2 separate regions of the Homo sapiens genome follow, and region 2 is linked to region 1. A link means that fine-mapping ties the variant in region 1 to the expression of a gene that starts in the linked region. Tissue or cell type: whole blood. Region 1 holds a variant in brackets; the other region holds the start of a gene. All regions are shown on one strand. Distances are between the middles of the regions.

Region 1 (2,852 bases):
TGTTATAATTTTAAGTGAATTTGTGAGTGTGTAAAGGGAGCAACAGAGTTCCTCAGTGGATGGGGCAGAGGAGGATGCCCATCAGCTGGCACGTGCCAGTGAGTTCTCCAGGTGATTTTCCCATTTGGAAATTTTTAGCACAACTGGGGAGGAGCAGCCCAATCTCTTCCTGTTCCTATAGCCTCTGGAAATAGGAGCACCTTGATGTGAACCTGAGTCCAGCATAGTTCAGAGAGCCCCCCTCAGACCTCCTCAGGTCAGTGGCTATAGACACACCTAAAGACAGGACCCTGTAAAACCTTTCCTGCAAGCTGGCTACTAAGACGCCTTGCTCTCTGGTCAATCCCACTCACACAGACACAATTAACATCACTCTTGACCAGGAACTTATTCTATATAAAAGGGTATTCTATATACTGAGGTATTTGGCAGTGAATTCCTCTTACCCATCTCATCCCCAAACATGACATTGCAGAGCATCTTCAAGTCCTTGGGGCAGAGTAAGGTAGGGAATCCAGTTTTCCTTTTCTGCCCCCCTGAATGGTCGATGGGGTCTTCCCTCCCTGGCAATCACCTCCTCACTCCTTTCCTAGAGATGCTTGGTGGGAAAGGCATCCTTTTCTCTTAGTTCTCCCTAACATGCTATCCCCTGAAGAACTCCAGGAGGTCAATATATAAATTTAAAAATCAAGTTTACTGAGATTATGCTTTATATACAATAAGATGCACCCATTTTCAGTGTATAGTCTGATGAGTTTTGGTAAATGTTTATGCATATGTAGCCACCATCACTACCTCCCTATAGACTATTCCTATGATTCTAAAAAGATTCTTTTGGGAGCCTTCCTACTCAATCCCCACCATCTCCAGGCAACCACTGATCTGCTTCCCACCATTAGAGATTAGACTAGTTTTAGATAATAGATTAGGTCATTACACTTTTGAGGAGAAATTCTTTTTTTGCTGCTGACCAGCATTCACTACATCAATAAAAATAAATGCTAAGCTTTGGGTTTGTTTTTATATAAGAAATGACAAAAATGCCCATTTGTAAGAATTGTTTCTTCCACTTCCCACCTTAAAGTAATGCAACGTTTCAGGGCAAAATTGCCTTCTTCATGAGTGGGTTTGCAGTACTGATTGTATCTTTCACAATATCTGTTGAAAATAAATTCCTCCTTTTAAAATTACAAGAAAAAAAGCCTGTGACTTAATCTTTTCAAACAAAATGACAATAACAGAAAAACCCAAAAGAGTAATTCCCTTAGGTCTACCCTTGAATCAGCCAAGTTTGTGGCTGAGTGAAATACACCGCTCCTGCCAAGCCTTCCTCTCATTGCAGGAAATAGCTGCACACAGGGAGGAAACATGAGCTGATGCATTCCCCACCCTGCCTCCCCCCATGTAGTTCCGTAGGGAACCATTCCAGAAACTTAAGAAGCCTGTGTGTACACCAAAAAAAGCCACAGGGAAAAACCCCTCAAACATCTTACAAATGCTCAGACTGATAAAGACATATTGAATCTATAAACATCAGGACAATTCAGGAATGTGCCTGCACAGTAAGAAACTCAACTTACAATTTGCACTCAAAAACAAGCATGATTATGCATTCTTATTTCACTGACCTCATGACTGCCCTCTGTGTCTCTGCTGTT[C/G]CGAAAAGCTGGTGACCAGGCTGATTTGTTCTTCAGAAGTCTTCCTGTCTGCCTCAAGTAAATACTGAAGGAACTATATAAAGGGGTGGGAGAGTAGGGCACGCATCAGCTGATGTTTTCTCCGTTTTTGAGTAATTGCTTTTAGGGGAAGGAAGAGGAAACTGGAAAGTGAAACTAATTTAAAATCGTTGGGAGGAGGAAAATGAAACCTAACGGCTTGAGACCTGCAATGGCTGAGCCAGAGTACGTTATTCAAAACTGTGACTAAAATTTGTTTGAGAGAATGTGGAAGCATTCCTAATGTAAACCAAAAAATTAAATTCTAAGGCCATACTCACCAACCATGTGACTGGACCCCTGCTTTTGGCCAAGGGCATTCCAAAGTTAACCTGAAAACTGATGTGAAGGGGAAGCTGGATATGCCTCATTACATCCTTTTTCCTTTTGGAATTACTAATAGAACACACTCTTTTTTTGTTTTTGTTTTTGTTTTTTTTTGAGACAGAGTCTTACTCTGTTGCCCAGGCTGGAATGCAGTGGCATGATTGCGTCTCACTGCAACCTCTGCCTCCTGGGTTCAAGTGATTCTCTTGCCTCAGCCTCCCGAGTAGCTGGGATTACAGGCACCCACCACCATGCCCGGCTAATATTTGTATTTTTAGTAGAGACGAGGTTTCGCCATGTTGGTCAGGCTGGTCTTGAACTCCTGATAGCAGGTGATCCAACCACCTTGGCCTCCCAAAGTGCTGGGATTACAGGCATGAGCCACTGCACCCAGCCAGAACATGCTCTTTTTAAGTGTATTAAGAAACATTTACAACCTATTCTCTCTGAAGCCTGCTACTTGGAGGCTTCATCTGCATAATAAAACCTTGGTCTCCACGACCCAGACATTCCTTTCTAATGATTGTCTATTGAATTTCTATTGGATGTCTCCAAACATTCCTTTCTATTGATAATAACTCTTTCAACAAATTGTCAATCAGAAAATCTTTGAATCTGCCTATGACTTGGAAGCTGCCCCGCTTCCCTGTTTCCAATTGTCCCACCTTTCTGGACCTAGCCAATGTACACCTTACATGTATTGATTGATGCCTTATGTCTCCCTAAAATGTATAAAACCAAGTTGTGGCCTGGCACATGTTCTCAGGATCTCCTGAGGGCTGTGTCACAGGCCATAGGTCATTCATATTT
Region 2 (2,676 bases), 26 kb after region 1:
ATCAACCAGGCTCAGAACTAATGCTACCACCGCAGTCTCAGAATCACTGAGGAGCCTTTTAGAAACACACATCCTCAGACTCTAACCCAGACCCACTTAATGAGAATCTCTGGGGAGTCAACCCTAGGACTCTGTCCTTAATAAGCTGTCCAGGCAATTTTTATGCATGCTCAATTTTGAGAACCACTGTCTTAGGGCACAAGGGCAATGCCCAGTGAAAGTCACAATAGATAAAGAATTAAGGAAAGAAAGGACAGATGGGTCTGTATTGTAATGGGAAAAATTCTAAGATAAGACCATGCTAAAATTCTAAGAAATAAGAAAAGGGTTCTATAGATTCTGGGTGACTACAAAAAAAAGAAATCTGTAAATATCTCAAATCTTTTTTTTTTTTTTTGAAATCAGGCAGAACATTTAGACTAGCAGGAAATAATATCGTTTCAAGAAGAGAAATCAGGAACCTCACAGACAGAGGGCAAGGTGTCTCATAGGAAGTAAGCACAGGGGTTGGTAACACGGGATTCCAGAGCTCCCAGGATGAGGGTTAGGCAACCAGGTCCGGCCACCCCACCTTCAAACTGGAGAAAATATTTCCCTTCCTATTCAATGAGCTAACACTTCCTCTCCAGGGCAGTCTCATGTTTTGGGGATAGAAGGGAATGTTAGAGGTGAGAACAGAACTATTTTCTCCAAGCACTCCATCTCTAATTCATACTCAGGAGGCATTTTGGGGTGAAAATATTTAAGTTTACCAGCCCTTGTGCAAATCTGAGATGAAGAACTACATTAAAAGTAAAATTCACCTTTGCAGGAAGTGGGGTTTGCTATTCTGTGTATATCTTTAACAGTATCTGCTGAAAAGAACCCTTTTGTTAAATAATTGTATTACAAGTCCCCAACTTAATCCTTTCAAATATGAAATAAGACAGGGTCAGTGCACAAGAGCAATGCCCCCAGACCCATCTTTAAGTGAAGCACCAGGCCGATGAAACATCATCCCTCTCTGCTGCCTTCTTTCTCTGATTGCAACTCAACTCCCCAGGCGTGCAGTTCTGGAGATGAATTTAGGAAGCTTGCCAGTGTGAAGCAGAAAATTGTTCAGGAGGGAACAAACCACCATTGGTAAGACAGATTTACAACCAACAGAGGTAGAGGCATAGTAAGGCTATAAACAAACACTAAAATGGAGCTGGCCCTCTTTGGGAACATAGCTTCTCAGGATTTGCATTGGACAAGATGACTCAACAGCACTACCGAATACGAAGGGAAAATATTTACCTCATGGTTGCAGTGCAATTCTCAGCTGTTCGGCAGGGCTCGGTTCAGGCAGCTGCACTCTTCAGAAATCTTCCTCTTCTGCCACCAATAAATGCTGAAGAGACCTATATATACAAGTGGCCTCTGGTTCCTTTTTGTTTGTTTCCCTTCAGCTGACGTTACAAAAGGGAAAGTGAAACTAGAAAGTGAAATTGGCAGGACTCTTTTTCTTTTTTTCTTTTTATTATACTTTAGAGGACTCTTTTTCCTCCGGAGCTGAGTTGTGATCAGAGAAAGAAGGCAGCAGAGAGGGATGTTTCATCGGCCTGGTGCTTCACTTAAAGATGGGTCTGGGGACATTGCTCTTGTGCACTGTCCCTCTCTTATTTCATATTCGAAAAGATTAAGTTGGGGACTTGTAATACAATTATTTAACAAAAGGGTTCTTTTCAGCAGATACTGTTAAAGATATACACAGAATAGCAAACCCCACTTCCTGCTAAGGTGAATTTTACTTTTAATGTAGTCCTTCATCTCAGATTTGCACAAGGGCTGGTAAACTTAGATATTTTCACCCCAAAATGCTCTTGAGTAAGAGCCAAGCCCAGCTGCGTAGTGAGTTAGAAGAACTTCCTCTTTGTGGAATGTACTGATGGCATCAAGGGAGCACAACTCCTAGGAGGACACATTTACAAAGCTCCCTGCCTTGTGATTACCATATTAACCCATCTTTGCTCTGCCTTATACCAATATGATCCACAGGCCACTGTAAGGAGCAGTTATTTAGCCTCGACAGGGCAGGGGATTTTAGTCTGAATCATTGCTGAATCTCCAGTCCCTGCAAAACAACCTGCACATTGCATGGTATGGCAAGCATTCCAAAAGTAGTTGTTGACTAAATGAATACATGATTAGAAGCATGGGCAGTGATGTCTGTCTATCTGGATTTGAAATCAGCTTCCACCTTTATGCTATGAAACTCTGGGGAAAATTATTGAATGTCTCTGCTTCGGTTTTGTAAATTGGGAATAATACAACTACTGGTTTATTGTGGTGTTGGGAGGATGAAATGAGAGAATACGTGAAATGTCCTTAGAATAATGCCTGGCAGTAATAAGTAAATGCTAGTTTCTATTATAATTATTAACTAAAATCGTTAACCAAAGTGATCAGAGGGGAAACTCTTTTTTTCAGGCTGGAGTGCAGTGGAAAGATCCTGGCTTACTGCAACCTCCACCTCCCTGGTTCAAGTGATTCGCCTCAGCCTCTCGAGTAGCTGGGATTACAGGCACGCACCACCACGCCCGGCTAATTTTTGTATTTTTAGTAGAGATGGGGTTCCACCATGTTGGCCAGGCTGGTCTCGAACTCCTGATCTCAGGTGATCTGCCCGCCTTGGCCTGCCAAAGTTCTGGGATT

What was found. PIP is the estimated chance that this variant, and not a neighbour inherited with it, causes the effect.
Region 2: IFIT2 starts here. The variant in region 1 is fine-mapped to the expression of IFIT2 in whole blood (TOPMed, PIP above 0.99).

The regions. Positions count from the first base shown.
Region 1 is chr10:89,326,855-89,329,706 of GRCh38, reverse strand. IFIT3 (interferon induced protein with tetratricopeptide repeats 3) reads right to left here and starts at 1,710. Exons shown (of 2, transcript NM_001549.6): 1 at 1,629-1,710. The coding sequence starts at 1,633. It also overlaps a transcript of LIPA not described here. RefSeq lists a silencer at 1,333-1,382 and an enhancer at 1,703-1,942. The variant C/G (reference allele first, on the strand shown) is at 1,659.
Region 2 is chr10:89,300,731-89,303,406 of GRCh38, reverse strand. IFIT2 (interferon induced protein with tetratricopeptide repeats 2) reads right to left here and starts at 1,361. Exons shown (of 2, transcript NM_001547.5): 1 at 1,279-1,361. The coding sequence starts at 1,283. LOC105378419 (a long non-coding RNA gene) reads left to right here and starts at 1,504. Exons shown (of 3, transcript NR_188200.1): 1 at 1,504-2,121. It also overlaps a transcript of LIPA not described here. RefSeq lists an enhancer at 1,334-1,653.